Linked DNA regions of Homo sapiens. The protein of the gene in region 3 interacts with the protein of the main gene of each other region in a pairwise test. Each region holds a gene or a part of one and is shown on either strand. Other genes may lie near its edges.

The links.
Region 1: the proteins of CUL7 (region 3) and PLXNB3 interact in a two-hybrid assay, tested with the Homo sapiens proteins (one study listed by BioGRID and IntAct).
Region 2: the proteins of CUL7 (region 3) and MEGF10 interact in a two-hybrid assay, tested with the Homo sapiens proteins (one large-scale study listed by IntAct).

What each region holds. Positions count from the first base shown.
Region 1 is NC_000023.11:153,770,749-153,774,248, reverse strand, and holds part of PLXNB3 (plexin-B3 isoform 1 precursor), read right to left. Parts: intron 3,492-3,500; coding exon 3,366-3,491; intron 3,285-3,365; coding exon 3,168-3,284; intron 2,940-3,167; coding exon 2,846-2,939; intron 2,764-2,845; coding exon 2,594-2,763; intron 2,386-2,593; coding exon 2,234-2,385; intron 2,068-2,233; coding exon 1,962-2,067; intron 1,364-1,961; coding exon 1,233-1,363; intron 1,020-1,232; coding exon 843-1,019; intron 732-842; coding exon 536-731; intron 391-535; coding exon 151-390; intron 64-150; coding exon 1-63. UniProt on the Homo sapiens protein: Receptor for SEMA5A that plays a role in axon guidance, invasive growth and cell migration. Stimulates neurite outgrowth and mediates Ca(2+)/Mg(2+)-dependent cell aggregation.
Region 2 is NC_000005.10:127,433,796-127,437,295, reverse strand, and holds part of MEGF10 (multiple epidermal growth factor-like domains protein 10 isoform a precursor), read right to left. Parts: intron 2,610-3,500; coding exon 2,475-2,609; intron 1,936-2,474; coding exon 1,807-1,935; intron 1-1,806. UniProt on the Homo sapiens protein: Membrane receptor involved in phagocytosis by macrophages and astrocytes of apoptotic cells. Receptor for C1q, an eat-me signal, that binds phosphatidylserine expressed on the surface of apoptotic cells. Cooperates with ABCA1 within the process of engulfment.
Region 3 is NC_000006.12:43,047,352-43,050,851, forward strand, and holds part of CUL7 (cullin-7), read right to left. Parts: intron 3,048-3,500; coding exon 2,909-3,047; intron 2,809-2,908; coding exon 2,612-2,808; coding exon of another isoform or gene 2,585-2,611; intron 2,312-2,584; coding exon 2,056-2,311; intron 1,219-2,055; coding exon 981-1,218; intron 903-980; coding exon 797-902; intron 639-796; exon of another isoform or gene 626-638; coding exon of another isoform or gene 596-625; intron 1-595. UniProt on the Homo sapiens protein: Core component of the 3M and Cul7-RING(FBXW8) complexes, which mediate the ubiquitination and subsequent proteasomal degradation of target proteins. Core component of the 3M complex, a complex required to regulate microtubule dynamics and genome integrity.

The DNA of each region.
Region 1 (3,500 bases), on a different chromosome or scaffold from region 3:
CTCGCCGCGGCCGATGTGCACGCGCACCTCCTCCTTGCTGATGCCCAGGTTGAGGCCCTCGCCCTGGGACACACATGGGAGCCTAAGCCGCTGGCCCCCACAGAGGCGGCCTGAGCACCGTGGCGGGGCAGGGTTGAAGGTGGCCCTCACCTCCACATCCAGGACATGGCCTGGCTTGAGGCGGTAGGGGCGGGCAGGCCCCTCGCGGCTGAGGGGTGCCAGGCGGGGGTTGGGCTGGTACAGGAAGCCCTGGCCCCCACTGGCACTGGCGAAGTCCACTTGCACGTTGTCTAGGGTGAAGAAGACCCGCTGCGGGTGGGCTCTGTCTGGTACAGCAGGGCTCCGGCACAGGAGGAGGCTGGACGAGTTGACGGAGCAGACGGTGGAGCACTGTGGGGCATTCAGGGCCGACCACAGGTGGAGTGAGCTGGGCTCTGCTGTGCGCTGCTAGGGGCATGGCGGCCTACCCTCCTCCTCCCCACTGGGCATGGGCATGGTCGGGGACAGCCTTGTCGCCTGCTGGTGAGGGGCTCACCTGCAGCAGCCCCCCACCGAGCTGGATACAAGCCTGGGGGTCCGCAGCAGGGGCTCCACAGCTCCTCCTTGGCTGTGGGTCCTGGGGCTGGGCCCTGGAAGCCTGCACCTCTGCGTCAGCCTCCAGCCACACAGACAGTAGGGGCCGCTGCACCACGTCTAGGCCGGTGCCCCTGACACGGATCAGTCGCCCACCCCTGTACCAGGATGGCAGTCGGGTGTGGGCGGGCGGTGGGCAACATAGCCCAGCCCGCATCCCACCTTCCCTCCTGCGTGGTGCACAGGCTGGCCTGCGGGCTGACCCTCACCCCCGGAAGCTGGCACTGGGCTCCGCCGCTACAAGCTGGGGGTTGGCGGTGTAGCGGAAGGGGCTGGCGAGCAGTGTGCGCTGGGCATGGCCAAAGACCACAAGGACCGCTGCTTCTCCTGGGGCAGCCTGGGGCCTGGTACGGCACACGATGGCCTCCGGACACACTGGCTCCAGGCTGCAGGATGGGTAGTGGGGTCTCTCATCTCGGCTCTACCACCCCTCTACCCCAGCCCTGGCCCAACCCCCGTAGGAGAAGCCCTGCTTTGCCTGCCTTGACAAGGGCAGGGACCACTGGGGGTGGCCACAGCAACCACTTCTCTAAATGTACCACCCCCACTGAGGCCTATGGGAGTGCCCACCACCCGACGGCAGCCAGGCCGGGACTCACATGGGACAGGGTTGGCCACCCACGAAGGCACTGGTGTTGCCACCTGTCTGGAGGTGCTGACCTCGGATGGTGAGCTGGGTGCCCCCTGCCTGGGGGCCCCAGCGAGGACTCAGGCTCAGCAGGACAGGGTCCTGGCGAACAGCGCAGGCTGGGTAGGCACGGCAGCCCAGCCTGGCCCTTTCACCCCCCTGGGCCATGCCCAAGGCCCTCCGGTTCTGAAGCGCAGGTCATCTCTGGACTTCACCTCCTGGGGCCAAAGTGGACCACGCCCTCCTTCCCGAGGCCACTGCACACTGGCCAGCTTCCTCCCACCCACCCCTGCCGCATGGGGAGTAGAAGTGGGGCTCTTTCATCCTCACTGCCACTCTGTCCCCCTTGGGACAGCCTCCTCCCCACCACAGCTTACAGCCCCCAGACCTGGAGCTCTAAACTCTCAAATCCAGTTGCCTCTTTGGGCAGAACCCACCCCTGCCCTCACTGCTCCTGTCCCAGGCTTCCCACCCAGGAAACGGTGCCACCAAGTGCCCAGGGCAACAGATCCTGAGAGCTTCGTGCCTCAGACTGGCCTGGCTGCCCACCTCCACTCACATGCCATGGCTTCCCTCCTAGACATGCAGCGGTGCTTCCTGCTCCCCGCAGACCCAGCTTGACATCCTTACTAGGCGCCTGTCCTTCCTGGCCCTCCCTCCTACCCTCCCCTGCGTAGGGCACACCTGGGAGGCCACTGACCTGGTAGGTGAAGTGCTGGCTTGAGATGCCTGGTGGCTGGCTCTTAATGGCCACCCGGACGGGCCCAGTGGTGCCATTGGGGGCAGGAGATGTCACACACACAATCCTGGAAAGCCGAGGCCTGGGAGCTGCTCAGGGCTCAGGGACGGAGGGGACAGCCCACCCCTCCCCTGACCCGAGTGCCCCAGGTTTCTTGGCCACAGGCCTTCCTTATCTCTGGGTGGCCATCTCTGAGGGCCTCCCCACCCATCTTCACCCTCCAAGTGCCTCACCGGGCCGACGTGCGGTAGAGAGAGGGCTCAGGGTTGCAGGGCCGGCTGGCCACGCTCACGGCGTACTGCACATCGGCGAAGGCCCGGCCCAGGTTGGAGCCCAGGATGGTGAGGGCCAAGCCTCCCTCAGGGGGACCGGTCAGGGGCTCGACCTGCAGCAGGCAAATGATGGCAGATGGGGTCCCCCGCACCCACGCTCCACTCTGCAGTGCTGGGTGCCCGGCCAGCCAACCAGCCCAGCCAGGCCGAGCTGCTGGGGTTTGGGGGCCTGGGGCAGGGCTGGTCTGATCACGGAGGACAGGACAGTGCGGGGCAGGAGAAGTGGGCCACTGGGCTGTGGGGGCCCGGCAGGAGACTCACTGCATCAATGCTGGGCGCAGGACACAGCAGCTCCACAGCCCCCGGCGGGCACAAGGGCCCATAGCGACAGGCAGGCTGGCCGTCAGCACACCACAGGCAGCCCAGGCTCCTGTTGGCCGCTTGGCAGTGGCTGCAGTCCGGGTGGCCCATGGCGCAGTCGTACAGGATCACTAGGGAGGGTCAGGCAGTGTGCTGAGCGCCTCCTGTCTGCCACCCACCCTGCCCCGCCTGCCTGGCTGCCCTCAGGCTCACCATAAAGAGCATGGGTGTTGTCCAGCCTCTGGGCTTCACCCTGGGTGACGTAGATGGGCACTGGGAGCTCCCGCTGGGACATGGAGGGATAAAACTGTGGGCAGAGTGTGGGGTCAGGCTGGGTGCCCACTCAGGGCACCTCTGACTCTTGTCTCCTCTGGGCCACCCCCCAGAATGAATGTGATTGTTCCCTGCCTCTCCCCCAAGACTGGGGCCCACAGACAGAGGTTATGGGCCCCAAGCAGGCTCTCCACAAAGATGGCAGACCCCTGAGGGTCTACGGAAGCTTGGGGGCAAGAGGGTTTGGAAGGCAGCCACTCACCTGGTGGGCCTGGCAGTGGATGAGGCCTGAATCCCCTGCTGTCTCCTCCAGGGTGGCCGGCAGTCCCCGAAGTTCTCCAGGCAGCTCCAGCCAGCAGTGGAAGGAGGCAGGCAGGCCCTGGGGAAGGACGCTGTCAGGAGTGTGGACACGCTGTTGGCAGACCTCACTGCCCTGTCCCCTTCCCTCCTGATGGCTCACTCGGAAATGTTGAAGGTTCCGCACGCGTAGGGCCAAATGGCTCTCCCAGCCCACAGGCACCAGGTGGGGACCTGCCAGGCCTTCGACCTGTGGGCAAGCCCCTGGGCCACGCACCTGGATGTCCACCTGGGAAAA
Region 2 (3,500 bases), on a different chromosome or scaffold from region 3:
AATAGTGACTCGTACAAGGTCACATAGATTAATAATAATATTTGTTATTTGTTAGACAAATACAGCTTTCCCAAAGCCACAGTGAGACTCAGTGAAAACTGTTGAAGCGTCTAGCCCATTTGATGCTCAGTGAAGCACTCTTTACCTAAAACAACCTATTCCTTAGATGATATTTAACCAGCTTCTGTAAACCCATTTATGTTCACAATATATTTTTCTGAGGTAACCCACTGCCATTAGGTTTTTCTCCCTATATTTGTTATGATCAGAGAATGGGAATAAGCATCACTCAACTTTATATTCCCAAAAGGTAAACGTAGAGATAGTGCTTTAAAAAATCATTTTCCCAAGGACACCTGCCCCTTTAAATGTACCCCTTTAAGTTTTCAAAGTCTGTGTTTTCACTGTGAAGGACTTTGCTCTCTTTAGACAGGCTCACAATCAGCTAAGAAGAAATATGAAGATGGTTCCACAGAGTCCATAAGGGAATCAATGAAATCAATGATCCCCAGGAGAAGCAAAGGCTTTTGCCAAATAAGTCAGCTTCCTGTGGAGTGATTATTGGGACAGGCAACACTATAGTCTCCATTCATAGTTGTGTTTCTATTTTTATTCCTTTCAGCACATTCCTCCTCCAAATGAGGAAGGGACAAATTTCCAAAATAAAGACTACTTTTTAAAGGAGCAATATAAATCAATCATTTTGTGACAATGATATTGGACCTTTTACTCTTCCCAAACCCATACGCCCAACCATCAGTCAGAGCCCTTGCAACACATGTAGATTTAAACAGACTGATTTCTTCTGAAGTGATGCCCCCAGAATGGAGTGAAATCATATCGCATAACACTTCTTTCACCAAAGAGCTACACTTCTGAGATTTATTAGCTCTCTTCCCTTATTCCTAAAAAATGGGGTACAGCCTGGACTACTTATGGAAAAAATTAACATTCAGAAAAAAATCTTCCAGCAAAAAATATATTGCTCATCAATTAGTATTTGCAGGTTGCTTGTAACTGTGAAGTTTGAATTAAATTATCAATAAAGCACCATGTAAAATGACTGCACACAGTCATTCTTTGATTTCTCTTATGTGCATGATGGGGGAATTCAATATAAACTGAGAGTGTTTCATAAAATTTAAAATGAATGAAACCAGATTACTCCATACATATGCTATTTTTTGGTCAAAAGTTGAATACTTTTAGACATTGCACTGACCCTTTCAAAACATTCATGAATGACTTATAGTCGATGTCATTTTTTTCATGACATGGGTGCTCTAAGAGTCATCTATATAGTCCCTTATAGGGTCACACAATTCCTGTCTGAAATCCAGTGGTGTGGAAGGCACTTGGGTGATGCCAAGGTGAAGCTAAGCATATTAGGTGGGCAGTTCGCTCAGGTTCCCAATAGGTTTCTAAGGCTCACATCATTTAATTCCATTTTTTCTTTCTCTGTAATTAACTCTCCAGATAAACACAAAATGAAGAGATAGATTTCTCAATACAGCTGTTTTTGCTTTATTTCAATGGACGATGAATCACTGAAAAGGGGATAAGGAAAATGTTACATATTTAGGTTCTTTCCAAGACATTATTTGGATTTAAACATAGGACCATTGCATAGAGGTCGTAATGGGAAAAAAAAAAAGAATTTTAAAAAAAGAATTTAAAGTAGAATGTGTCTTTTAATTAGTCATATATTCTTTCTTGATTATATAAAAACACTCATACTTCAATCCTAAAGAATCTGAAAACAAACAAATAAGAACAGTTTATTAATTGTTCTCAAACAAGACTTACGTTGAGAGCAGTCACTGCCAATCCAACCGGGGTAACACTGACAAGATCTGTCAATGGGGTTACAGGTTCCGTTGTTGGTGCAGGTACAAATTCCTGCACAGTTTTTCCCAAATCTGCCACTGGGACACACTGTGAATAAGCTATAGGTCAGTAACTCACAATCAAAACCCCTCTCGCAGAACCCTAGAATCTTAGCACAGGAAATAACTTTAAAGGTCACAGGCCCAGCTGCTCATTGGTAGCTATCTCTGCTCAACAGCATCCTTCATCTTGAATGGGCTCATTTTTACAAATCCATGAAGCCAAAGATTTGCATTAAGGCATCACAAACCAGGGGACATCATTGCACTTCTAGAAATATGACTTCACGACTTCTTGCTCTGGGAGTCTAAAATTCTTCCGCATATTGATTTTTTATGGGAGGACATGTCCAGCTAAAACTGAAGAGTAGCACATCTCAGGAAATAAAAAGGTTTTGCTGGAGTGGCAAGCCAGCTTTTCCAAAGCTCAAAGTCCTATCTGAGAAGCTGCAGACACAGCACAGCAGAAGACATTCCCAGCAGACAGCTGAAAACATGGCCTTCAGGAAGGCCAAGGGGAGGCCTGAGGACAGACTCTCCGGGGCGTGCTCATCACCACCCAGCTGTCCGGGATGCTTCGTGCCTTACCTTCATTGCAGAGGGCGCCTGTGAAGCCAGGCAAGCAGTCACACAGGCCGGTGATGTGGTGGCAGGGCCCGCTGCTGTGAACGCACTGTGGGCATGTCTGGCTGCAGCGATGCCCATAAAAACCAGGGGAGCAGACTGAAAACAGAAGGGAAATCAGCAGTTATCCTTCTGAGATGCGTTTGTCTCGCATTCCAGATCGGGATCTAGTTAAAGTTTTAGAGGTTAAAAAGCAAAACCTTAAAAAAAAGTAAAAAAGATACGGAGAATTTTCCAAGTAGAAAACAAGAACAACAAAGGAACAAAGGAACCCTTTAATGAGGAAAAGAAGCCACTAAACTCTGAGTTTCTTGAGAGCAAGCAAATGTCTTAGTCTTCTTTATTTTCCCATTTAAGGCCCCAGTTAGCTCAAGTCTTGGCATAAAGCAGGGCTCCAGGAATTTTCATTGAATAAATAAAGAGATAAAAAAATTGAAATACTAATAAGTCTCAAATAAGTACTCTCAAACCATTTGTTGATTCTTTATTCTTTAAGAGTCGTTTCTGGCAATAAAAATCGATCAACAGTCAAAATTTGAAGATTTTTCCTCCTCAAAATGGTCCAGGTTAATGACTGTAATCGAAAAGTGATTAACCAAAATGCTATATACTTAAGTTCTTGCCAAGATACTATTCAGATTTAAATATATGATAACTGCATAGAATTCTTATGGGGGGAAAGGCAATTTAAAAAATTAGAATAGTATAACTTATAATTAGTTACATATTCTTTTTTGATTGCATTTACTAAAAGATTACTTAATCTTCTAACTCAGAAGTCTTAAGGACCAATGTCAACAGTCTCCTTTTTCAACTTTGCAATTCCATTTTCCCCATAGCACTGATTTTAAGACTACTAGCAGGATGAATGATTTGCCTCAAGGTTTGGCTGATGTTGACGTCTGGTAATTGAGGTAAGGCCAATGCCAAACTGCTGAATAACATATTTACAGGTCAGTGAATTTCTAGAACACCATTCCAAAGCTTTCA
Region 3 (3,500 bases):
GCTGATTATGTTGGCAAAAACGGCAGAGAGCATCCCTGGGTTCTTTCATCCAGGCCCTACTGTCCCAAAAACCAGTTGTAGGGCTGTGTTTTGAGATGTTCAGGCACAGACACCTGGATGGCTGGGAAGGGGCTGACAGGGACTGGGTTTGTGTGTGTATTATACCCAATGAGCCTGCCTTAGAAAGTAAATTCTAGGTAACAGCCAAAAATATAGCCACACTGCAAATACCTACTGTCACCATGACCCTAGTTCTCTGAGCCCTTCTGAAGCCTTCTGTGCCCAGGACTTCTCTGTAGCTCTTGCAGGGGACTCTGGTATGTGATGGGCGCTCTGCCTCCTTCATCCCCCTTTCTCCCACAGGCCCAGCCAAAAATGGAGCTATTGAAGCTCTTAATGTTTTATGTAATAATATCTCCATATCCTTTTGTGTAAAAAAGAGAGTGGCAAGATCACACATTTGGGTTTGCTTATATTTGCATAAGGGAACACGGGAAAGATACATAAATTAATACAAGTAGTTACCAGTAAGGGGTGTGTGGGGGACCCTGGGGGAACAGAGATTTGGGTGAGAGCAAGAATTCTCAGTGTATACCTTGTTAGAGCGTTTTGATTTGTGAACCATGTGAATGTATTACCTATTTAAAAAAAATAAAATTCAATTTTAAAAGCAAAACTCAAACCAAGAGCTCAAAGGCTCTATCACGCCCTCCAGAGCCTTGCCCAGCAGGTGTGCCTTGCCAGTGGCTGCCTTTATCCTCTCCCCCAGCCTCTCCCCAGAGCAGGGCAGGGGTACCTCTCGATCAGTGTTTGGGGACCGCAGGCAGGCCATGCAGGCATCCACGGCCTCGTGCCAGGGGAGCAGCAGTGCCTCGGGGAAGTCCACCAGCTGCTTCAGGATTCTGGGGGCAGAGAAATGTGTAGCCAGCCTCATGGACCCCCTTTGCCCTCAGAGATCCCACCTGTCACCATGCTCTCACCTCAGCACAGTCAGGTGCAGGGTCCTGTTAGTCTCCGGAGTGTCCAGGCTCTGCATCAGTGCCAGGAAGGGCTGCGGCTGCCGCTGCAGCTGCAGCAGGAGTGGCTTGACCTTGTTCTCCTGGGTCCCCTCTGAGCTGAGGGCTTGCTCTAGATCCAGGAGGATTTTCCCAGCTGGACCATAACCCTCCACCAGACGCTGCAGGGGAGTGTTGGGACTCTGAGATGGGGGTTCTTTTGCTACAGGAAGGGGACAGTCACAGGAGTTGGCCATTGTTAGTAATGTGAAGGCTCAGAAATAGATTCATAACTCTCAATCTTTTTCTCTAATTTCTCCTAAAAAATGTTTTAAATTTTTTAATCCCCCTAAAAGTTAGGTTTGGGGATCTAATCTCTGAATGTCATTGTAAGACAGCTTCATGACAAATTTTATATTCTTTTTTTTTTTTTTTCTTTGAGACGGAGTCTCGCTCTGTCACCCAGGCTGGAGTGCAGTGGCATGATCTCGGCTCACTGCAACCTCCGCCTCCTGGGTTCACGCCATTCTCCTGCCTCAGCCTCCAGTAGCTGGGACTACAGGTGCCCACCACCACGCCCGGCTAATTTTTTTTTTTTTGTAGTTTTAGTAGAGACGGGGTTTCACCATGTTAGGCAGGATGATCTCGATCTCCTGACCTCATGATCCACCTGCCTTGGCCTTCCAAAGTGCTGGGATTACAGGCGTGAGCCACCATGCCCGGCCTTTATATTCTTAAAATAGCAAAGTAGCTTCATCTGAAAACAGGAGAGCACTTCCCTTTATTTCAAAGCATGGAATATGTTTCTGTACAAGAGAAAAAGCTAAATGTGGGGGCTTTTTTAAGTCTTCAAAATTCTCTTGCAATTTTCTAACTTTACATCCTCCTTCATTCTTTGAGGGAACACAATGCCTGCTTCTCCGTTTGTTGCTTCTCTCTAAGTTGCAGCTTCTAAGGTGGCATCACTTCCAGAAAGGATTGCATAAAAATCAGCACAGACATCTCTCCTGTGCTACTGCCCTGAAGGTGTGTCAGCTCAGCTGCTGTGTCTGGCACCCACCTTCCACTTTGGCTGCATCTTCTGAGTCCTTAGCCTGGGCCTGCGCGTCTAGCAGGAGGACATCTTCTTGGGCTTCTAGAAGGGATGGGTAGGCTTGGTTCCCTGCTAGGGCTTCAGGCCCATACTTCTTGTAGACATGGCAGTTGATCAGGTCCCTGAGGGCACTGTCATTGAGTCGCTGTGGCAGAGTCAGCAGCAAGTCCTGGGCCAATTCTATGGGCACGGCCAGTTCAGCTAGGATCTCATCATCCAGAATCTGCCATCAAGGAGAAGCTCTCACTGCAGACAGCCCTGCCGACCCAGAGGCCCCAGGGAGCACTTGGTAGGGGTGGGGGTCTCTCTGCACACATACCCTCCATCCTGATCCTCTCACAGCTGGCAGCTGGCTCCTCCCAAACAGCTCACCCTCCCACCTCTGAAAATTCCAGACCCCTCCTCTGCAGCCCCTTCCACTCTCTGACCTCCACTTTTCATCCTGAGCCTTCCAAATGCTCTATACAGTCCAGCCCTTGCAATAGAGCCCTCCAACCTCTGAGTGTCTCCAGGCTGGCTCTACCTCCCCATCTAGGTTCTCCTGGAGGATCTGGAGAACCTCCTGATGGTCAGGTCCATCCAGCTTCTTGATGAAGAAGAGGAGTTCCCACCACTCAGCCAGGGTCAGGTGTTCACACTCCTCAGTGTCCTCATCCTCAGGCAGCACATAAGGCACAGCATAGAGTTCTGTCATGGGCCTCCAGCGCCAGGCAGGCAGGGCTGTGAAAATGGGCCAAGGGGCACAAGGATGTCACTAGCAACTCAGCAGGACCACCATTCCTCTGCTCAGAGCTGACCCTTGCTTCCTCCCTGAGCTCACCTCTACCCAGGACTCTACTGGCCACTGCCCCTTGGTACTCATCAGCCTCAACCATGTCCTCAATGTCTTCCTCAAAGCCCAAGATCTCCAGCATGTGCCAGTGCACCCAATAGGTGCGGCCTGTTGACTCCCAAAATACCTGGAGCATAGGGAAAGAAAGAGGGAAGGGGAAGGGAGGACTCACAAATGACTGGCTGTGGCCCAGTACTGAGGACTATAGCCCTCAGGGTGACCACCTGGCCAGGTTTTAGAAAAACCTCCACATAACAAAACAGCAGCATATGGAGAATACACACACACACACACACACACACACACACACACACACACACACACACACACACACAGGATGCCTTCTCCTTTGGGGGATGGGCCTGTCTCTCCTCTCACCCTGTCTTTCATGGCTTATGCCCCCACACTTCCTTCTGGCCTCCACCACTCCATCTCCCTGACCCTGACCTTTGGAGGAGTCTGGCTATATCAGTTTCTTCCCAGGTGTGAGTCTTCTTGACTTCACAGCCTCCTAAACCCAGATTTTCCCAGCTCTCAGAATGGCCCCCCTCTCAACTACTGACTCTTTTCACCATTCCAA